2 separate regions of the Homo sapiens genome follow, and region 2 is linked to region 1. The links come from fine-mapping of genetic effects on gene expression. Tissue or cell type: hippocampus. Region 1 holds a variant in brackets; the other region holds the start of a gene. All regions are shown on one strand. Distances are between the middles of the regions.

Region 1 (4,397 bases):
CTCCTGAGCCTTACACTATCTTGCCTCTTTCTTCCTTGCAGGCAGAGATACAAGATCATTGTTTGTTTCTCTTTTAAGAAGGTCATATAACCCTGTGACAGTGGGTAATCCTTCAAAATACACATTTATATTCTTGGGAGCAGACTTTTCTTGCTAATGGTCGAGCATGCTGGTTAGCCACCATTTCTGCCAGCTGGCAAGCTTCCGGGTACATAATGTCTGGCGAAAGCAGAGGGAGGCAGGAGGGAAGGAAGAAGAGGACATGAATATCAGCATCGCCAACCCTTGCAGACATTCTATCCCCCATTGCTAGCCTAAATGATGAAAAAGAGGGGGTGCCCCAGCCATTGCATAAAGCTCCCTGGTATGTTTCCAGCTGGTGTTTCTGCTGGCCCCAAGAATTCACATCCAAATAAGGGAGACTGAGCTCTCTTCCTTAACCTTCACCTCGCTCTGTCTCATTAGTAGTATCTTTGAAATAAACCATGTGTATTGATTTACCGAACTCCTGGTAATGAAGCTGGTGCTTACAGGACCCACAATGTAAAAAAGAGAGGTCAGAAGAGGACCTCTGCTGTTTCACTGAACTGAGCTCTGATGGGTTCACCACATCCTGCAAAATACATGCCTCAAATACAGCATCTGGTCCTCCAACATGCAGATGCAGGAAGTGGAAATTTTATATATAGAACTATTACCATGGTGTCTTTGGAACTTGTGTGAACCATCACGCTCCTAATTGCCAGATGCCATGCAGCTTTGAGTTACATTTAGGAAATTATCAACGCTGCCAAATTCACATTTAAAGACAATAACAAGGGGCACAGCAATATCAAGTAGGCTCGCAAATCAAATGCAAAATCAAATGAAATTCAGCCACAGACCTTCTGTTTTCATGTTTGTTATGCTTTACCAGGTAACTGAATGTGAAAATAAACCCATGAGGATTCTGTATTTTTTAATGTAGAGCTACAGGTTACAAATCAGTCAGCTTTTGGCAACACAATAGCGTTTCTGAATATTAATTGTTAACAATCTCTGAGCATTGAAATGATCTGAAATATCTTAGATTTTAAAATAAAATCTTCAACTTTCTCTAGGTGATTAATGTCGGAATAGAAATTCACCAAACTTACTCTTTAAACTGAACCTTTAGAAAAACTCTTGCGACCCTAGCCCAAATGAACCAATGGCATTTTGTCATACTACCCTCAGCTTCTTCCACGTGTAACAGATGTCAGGGTTTGGTTTTCAAATGTTTGTCAGCTAAGTCCCCAGAGACCACAACGTATGCTCATGTGTGGCCCTCAGGGCTGCTCAGTAACAAGAAAAAGAGTGGACCCCAGACTTTTGGCTCTGTTCTATCACATAATTTCTGAGGAGTTTCAAATTCAGTTAACTACTCAGCTTCCATATAATGTGCCTCCCTAAAATTCATGTCCACTCAGAACCTCAGAATGTAAACTTATTTAGAAATAGTATCTTTGCAGATGTAATCTAGTTAAGATGAAGTCACACTGGAATAGGGTGGGCCCTAACTCCAGTCCTTATAAGAAAAGAAAACAGAAACAAAGACACATGGGAGAAGGCTATGTGATAAACAGGCAGCAATTGGAGCCATGTGTCCATCGTTTGTGAAACACCAAGGATTATGAGCAGCCTCCAGAACCTGGGAAGATTCAAGGAGGAACTCTTCCCGAGAACCTTCAGAGGGAGCCTGGCCCCACTGACACCTTGATTTCAGACTTCCAGTCTCCAAAACTGGGAGACAAACATTTCTGTCCTTCTAAGCCACCCAGTTTGCAGTGCTTCATTATAGCAGCCCTGGGAAACTAATACAGGAAACACTATCTGTTAAAGAGGTAGTGTTTTAAGGATTTATTCCTAAGTATTTGAAATCGGATCAATGGGAAATGCAAAATGAGTCTTTCCTCATTTTGTTCAACTTTCCTCTGAAAGAGAAAAAGGAACAAGTGTTTCCTCTGAGGTCACAGCTACAGACGCCAGCTAGGCACTGCCAGCCATCTGTCATTCTCCACTATTATGCTTTAAGGAGCAGAAGACTTTCTATGGTAAATAACAGATAGAGAGCAAGCCCAGGGCCCCTTCTTCCAGCATGATCCTTGCTGTCTTCCAAGATGGCACCTGTGAGACTCTAGATCTGAGATCATCCTCATTGATGAAAGTGTCAAAATATAGAAGCATTTCTTTGCAAAAAAAGTTTAGAACCAGGCTGCAGAGAGTGATATTGGCATGCTACTTGTCACATCAATGAGCTTGCACTGGTTGTCTAGCCTTCTGAAGTCTCTATTTCATCTTTTATGAAATGGAAACAATGGCAATGCCTACCTCAGGATTATTTAGAGAGGTAAACAAGTTAAAACCTGAAAAGTGTGTAGAACAATAGTCAGCTCACAAAAGCACTTAGTCAATAATAGCTGTTATTGTCTAGGACAGTCCCAAATGTTCCAGAAGGAAAAGTTCAATATAGAGATTATCATTGCCTGGGAGACATTTGCTTC[G/A]CCTTCTGTTTTCAAATGCTTGCAACATAGAAGACTGGAGTGAATCCAAGACAAGTGTTAATACGTTGTCCAGATCTTTTATCCCAACTGATGTAAAACCATGAAGCAAGATAGCTATCTATCTCTGGTAAATAATCTATGTATTCCCTTGGCACGAGCAGCTTCCATGGCTTTCTGATAACAGTGATAAGAAAATTATTTGTCCATTAGAAGAACACCTTTTTTATCTGCTTTCTTTCACTGTATGGACAGAGTGCTCTTGACTTTTAGCCAAGACTTAGAATCAATTTGAAATGACACTGTTGATAGAGACAGCACCAAGTTTTCCTCCTGTGACACAGAAAATTCCAACTTCATAGGCATCTGAACCAGCACTTTGTGAGGCTGATAGATGCCTTCATTATTCAGAAAACACAATTATCTTTACTGTGTGATCTGTCATGAATATTCTGACTTATTGAATGTGATAGTTCCTAGTCTCCCACAGTATGTTAATTCTAGAAAAAAAGTTGGTCACACTTATAAGGAAGATCACCCATTTACTTATTGTGTTTCTCCATGAAAGTTGACTATTTGGCTTGTTTAGTTTCTTTGAACCCTGTATCGACTCATTTACTCAAAGCATAGAGCAAGAGAGTGAAACATCAAAGTTGGATGGTATCAACATTTCATTGCTTCAAGCTTACATCCAAATTTCACATGGTCTTCAGCTAAACTGCCTCAGGAGAGCTAAGAGCCCCTCTCTGTCTCCAAGTGAGTGCAGGTCCCTGCATTCAGTGGGCACCAAGTGAGCAAAGGAGCACATCTTCATTTTGCTTCTGGAGACTTCTGGTTTCTGGTCTGACACAAAAGAGCTTACATGTTATCACCTCTGTTCTCTGAAGAAGAAAGCTAAAAAAACTGAAAATCAATGACTCTTCTTAAATCCATCAGAAAATTGAGGTGACAAGACCAATTACTGACTCAAAAGCTGGAAAGAGAAAGATATGGAGAACCAGAGTGTACTGAGCAAAAGCCCCAGCTAGTAGAAACACTTAAAGGGTGATGGACTAATTCCTAGAGGCTGAGAATGGACTACTTCAGTAGAGAAAAAACCCCTCAGGGCCCAGCTGTGGTGGTGATGGGGATACATGATGAGTTGCAACTCCAAGAGACTACCAGATTCTCAAGGTGAAGATCAGAGAGAAAACCCTGCCTGATTTGAGCAAGGGGAAGGAAAGTAATCATTTTGAAATACACTTGGAGCATTTCAGTCTCATTAATAGTGGTAAATCCTAAAGGAAAACTATGTTATTTCCTTAAGGAAAACTTAGATCAACTAAGATGGGTTTTACCAGAGCCTAACCAATGAGGGGGAAGGGAAACACAAAATCTCAGCCCCCGTTCCCCTCCTATCCCACCTAAGACGGTGAAAAAAGCATGAGGAAGCATTTGTGAAGATTACATCCCAGGAACATAGGCCCATTAAAAGACTGAGACTCAGTTATAGAACTACAAAACATTTAGCTTTCCCCCATACCTTACCACTGTATCAATAGAACACTTTTATAATAAGAGAGGATTACAGATAAAAAGAACTGCAAGGCTCAGATTATTTTAGAAGACATCTGTAGGGAAACCAAAGACAACAGGGGAGTTGAAAACAAGGGCACTAGAAGAAATTTTAGCCTCGGATACCTATAGCAACAGCAAACAGTAAACACAGCCTAACTCCTTCCTAGATAAATATAAAATTGCACACTAAAGGAATATTTACCTCGGTTTCCTTTACACAGTACACCATGTCTGGCTCAAAAAAACAAAAACAAAAACTCAGGGCATACTAAAAAGAAAAAACACAGACTAAAGAGGCAAATCAAGCATCAGAATCAGACT
Region 2 (4,397 bases), 46 kb after region 1:
GCAGTATTTTATTATGATAATTTTCCAAGAGAAACATTTATGCTACCATTCATGATATGGTTGTTAAAGTTCATAATAAATAAATGGCCTGTTTCAAAACTAAAATCAAGCTTAAAAAAAATCAGCTATTCATCGTTTCAGAGTCCCTAGCCAGGGTGACTTGCATCCCGCCCTTATTTCATAGAGACTTCTCAAAGGAACACAAGCTTCCTACTCCCTCTCACAGGTGTGTTGACAAAGCTCTAGTGCTCCCAGAAAAGGAAACACATCTATCTTAAGAAAAGTGCAGAACAAAGTTAGGTTTTCCTTTTCTTGTTTTTCTTTCTTAAAGTCAGAATCACTTTGCTTACCAAAAAATTAGCATATATGTGGATATTGGGATACTTATTATTGGAAGTTGACTTGAAGAAATTTCCACACACACACACACACACACACACACACACAAATAAAACCTTCAATTTCTCATGGTGAAAAAAACAGCGAAGTAGTTTTTGAAAATCTCCACAGGCCATGTTTTAGAGGATAAATATTATTTACTGATATTCCTAACAAATGGGATGCCATTTGATACTAAAAAGGCTCATATATGCATATCAACAACGCTAGAGCATATATCAGGTTTTGTTTCATAAGCCAAAACACCAGTCTGAGGAGTCCCAGGAAATTCGGAATTATCTTCAGTGCATTGGGTGGGCTTGAAATTTATCTTAAGAAATATTTGCAAAGGGCATAACAAAGTGCTCCAAACTGGCGCAGGCAAATGGATTAGTTCCTTTACCAGGAACCCCTGACCCTGTTGTCAGCACCCTGGCACCTTGCCCTGCGCATAGAGTTTTCAGCAGAAACACTGGGCCCTAGGGTGGGGTCGGGGGGTTACTCTGAAATCTTCCAGACGCCCCTGGCCGCTCGGATTCGCCTGTGTGAACCTCTCAGCACTCCACCAAAAACTCCCAGAAAATCCTTCACCTCTTCTAGGAAGCCACCCTGTAGCATTTCCAGGATCCTTCACGGAACAGAGTCCCCACCACCTGGCTGGCTGCCCCCACTGCTGCTCCAGTGGCGGGGCCTGACCCTCACTCCCTGCCCCGCCCAGCCCCCAGCGCTGCGCTGTCCCCGCGCTCACCGGATGATCACGAACATGACCAGCGAGTTGCCCACCAAGCCCACGACGAACACTACGGAGTAGACCGCCGTGATGATGACCGGGATGGCCGGGGAGATGTGCGCGGGCTCCAGCTGCGCGTCCTCCGAGCCGGCGCTGCCGTTGCTGTCGGGCTCGGCCCAGCCGGGAAACCAGGCGCTGCTGTTGGGGGGCAGGCAGGCGCTCGGGGCGCAGGTAGGGCCCGGCTCCCCGCGGAAGATCTGGATCGGGGAGTCCATGGTGGGGCGATTGCAGCAGGAAGGCGAGGACAGGCGGCACCTGCGGCGCTGCGGGAGCGAAAGAACCGGCTGGACGCGGAGAGGCAAACTTTGCCCGCGCCCTGGCCAGCGGCGCTGGGGACCCGGAGCCTGCGGACTCCCACCCGGGCCGCAAGTCGCCGGGGGCAGGACAGGGAGAACGGACTTCTCGCTGCCTTTCCGGCCAGCAGGCGCGCCGCTGGGTGCCAGAGAGGGGCGAAGAGCGCTCGCTCCTTCTCCCCCAGCCCCTGAGGTGCCTCCCTCACCAATTCTAGGCACCGGCCCCTGGTGGAACTGTCCCCAGACTGCCTGAGTCCCCAGGGTCAAGCCCCCTTCCCACCTCCCAGCACGGAGCTCTACCTAGAACTGCACCTCGAAAGCCCAAAGCTTACCTATGGTTCCCAGAGACAGGCGAAGGCGAGGTTTTTTACGGGACGCCCTGGTAGGTGCTGAACCGCGCGCTCACGAGTCCCGCTCAGCTCTTGGCATCACCTGCTCTCGGACCCCGGCCCCGCTCTCCGCCCGAGGGCTGCTGTTCCGCCGAGCGCAGCCCCCGCCTCTCAGCGCACGTCTCCCACTACTGGCGGCGGCTCTGCGGGGCGGGGCGGGGCGGGACCGGCGGGACGCAGCCGGGACGCGGCTGGGCGCTGGGGGCCTGCGGGCGGAGAGCTCGTCTGGTGCGCCCGCCCCAGGCCGGCAGGTCCCTGCCCCGCCCCGCCCGCCCGGAGTCAGCCCCCAGCTCCCCAGCCTCCCAGCCCCGCGTCCCCTCCAGCCCCGCAGGCTCGCCCGGCCCACTAACTGCCCGAGCGGCACACCGCCTGGTCCCCGGCCATGCAGCCTTCCCCAAGACCTGAGACTGAGCCATTTAGATTTAGTAAAAAGGAGGAGCATGCCTATTTAGTGCAAGTATGCACCTGGATTTTCATATTGTGTCTAGAACTTCTTATCTGCATAGTTCGCAGTCAGGAACTACGCTTATTAGAATGGCCCATCCAAAGAAAGTAACAAAATGATCCAGTTAGAATAAGACCAGTTCATAAAATAATGACTTAAAAGACACATAAATAGAATATTTCCTTGCGTTCTCTTCCATTCCGTCTGCTCTAACTGGGATGACAGGCTGCAGACAAACTGCACCTTACGGGTATTACCTGAATTGCTGATAGTATCTGAGAAGGGCAAAACACTCTCCTTACCCGGGCCTCAGTGGTGCTCCAGGGAGGTGACAGTGTCTCTGTTTTACATTAATCCCTGCAGCCATCACGTTCTCCTCACTTCTCCCTCACAGTAGGGCTGCCTCCATTATACGGCCGCGAATCTGAGCGTCCGTAAATAAACTGTCACCATCATTTCTTTGCAAAACTCTGCTAGTCCAAGGGTAGCTGTCAGATCCTGCTGAGTGAGAGACATTCTCTTCTCAGGCAAAGGGACCGGCAAGACACAAAGGGAGCAAGGGCTCAGCCCCTGAGGTGAAGGTTCTGAAAGGGAGTGGGGAAGTTCCCCTTCTCCACAGGGTACTGGAGACAGGCCTGGGGGAGACTGGGGGTTTAGGCACCTCAATTTCCCCAGTGGATTCACTGCCTCAGGCTGACAAACACAGGTCCCCACTGCATCCCACAGCTAATGTCCATGCCACACCTGGACACACTAATGACTGATACAGCCCTTCCCTCCATCAGCGGAGGGCAGAAGGGGGTTCCTGTCTCTTTCAAGACGCCATGACCCCAAAGTGGGATTTGACCACCAGCGTCTTGCCGCCTGGAGATGAACAACTCTTTTGAGCAGTGTAATATGAAGAGCATAAGGAAATCTTCCCTTTGTTCAACCATATCCCTTCAACCCTTTCAAATAATTTTGAAAATTATTATCAAGTCTTAGAGTTCTTTTAAGTCTGATTGCAAACTGTCATTGAAGGATCACATCTCCTTCAGTAACACATCAGACCTGCTGAGACCTCATAAGGGCCTCAGTAGTTTTATTTCATTTGAGCACTCTTACCTTTCTTGTTTACCAAATTAATGGCCAAAATAAAGGGAAGACAAAATGAACAGAGCATTGAGAAGCCCTCAGGTGGCTCAGGTTGCCAGGGGAACCCACTCGAGTCTCTAAATCCAGGAAGTATGGCTGCTTCTGTGGAGTCATGCTCTTAGGAGTATGCAATTTTATCATAATATCAGATAAAAGCTCATAAAATAGAAAGGAAAAGTAAACTGCTAAAATGCTATATACTGTTACACACTGATATAAAGCACATGTGGTTATACTTGGCCATTCTACTCAATGCAAACACTATGCTTATAACTAAGTACATGGAAAGCACTTTTAAAGATGAAAATGTGGAGATTTTTATTGGATAATGCTACAATGCTAAGGAGCATCCTGGGTAGTGGGTGGCTTTGACATTTTTGTTAGATAGACTAGATAACCCACCAGTAAATTGCAATTAACTCCCTTTCTTGTGGCTCCAACAACAGATATTGTTGTGCAGCAATGAGTGCAGAGCTGGAGGGAGCAACTTCATTAGCTTAAGACCCCAGTGCAGCCAATGGAGTCTTGCTGAGCCGGGATGCAGCTGGCTTCAGCTCACTTCACTCAGCAGATATTGCAGAGTATCCCCAAGTGGCTGAAGAAAAGGCACCCTCTGGGGATACAACAATACCAACACAGAGACAATCTCTTCTCAAAGAGGATGTGAAGCTAGTGTGACACATGGGATCTAAATTTTTTTAATGTTAGGAATAATTAATAAATAATTAATAACAAATTCATCCAACTCTGGCAAATGTTATGTGGAAAGGTGTTTAATAAACAGTGATAGCCAGTGCAGCAAATTTGCATGAAATTTAAAAATAGCATCCCTTTCATAAGGCACTTTACTTAGATCTGTCAGCAAGTTGTTATAATAAATACCCAAATCAGTCTTGTCTTCGGTGTGAAGCATACTGTGAGATACTGCACACTTAGGTGCAGTGTAGTCTACACAAGTGTGCAGATCC

Direction of the effects. Alleles are on the strand shown, and positions count from the first base shown. SD is a standard deviation of normalised expression in the study named.
For the expression in hippocampus of the gene that starts at base 1,983 in region 2, A is the low allele of the variant in region 1 and G is the other (small effect, 0.29 SD a copy in GTEx).

What was found. PIP is the estimated chance that this variant, and not a neighbour inherited with it, causes the effect. A credible set is the group of variants that fine-mapping cannot tell apart.
Region 2: OPRK1 starts here. The variant in region 1 is the best candidate, but not a certain one, in a credible set for the expression of OPRK1 in hippocampus (GTEx, PIP 0.77).

The regions. Positions count from the first base shown.
Region 1 is chr8:53,204,132-53,208,528 of GRCh38, forward strand. All of the region lies in intron 1 of LOC105375836 (a long non-coding RNA gene), which reads left to right. Among named protein-coding and RNA genes, the nearest start is that of OPRK1, 45 kb to the right of the region's middle. The variant G/A (reference allele first, on the strand shown) is at 2,523.
Region 2 is chr8:53,249,655-53,254,051 of GRCh38, forward strand. It overlaps OPRK1 (opioid receptor kappa 1), which reads right to left and starts at 1,983. Exons shown (of 4, transcript NM_000912.5): 1 at 1,794-1,983; 2 at 1,127-1,431. The coding sequence starts at 1,383.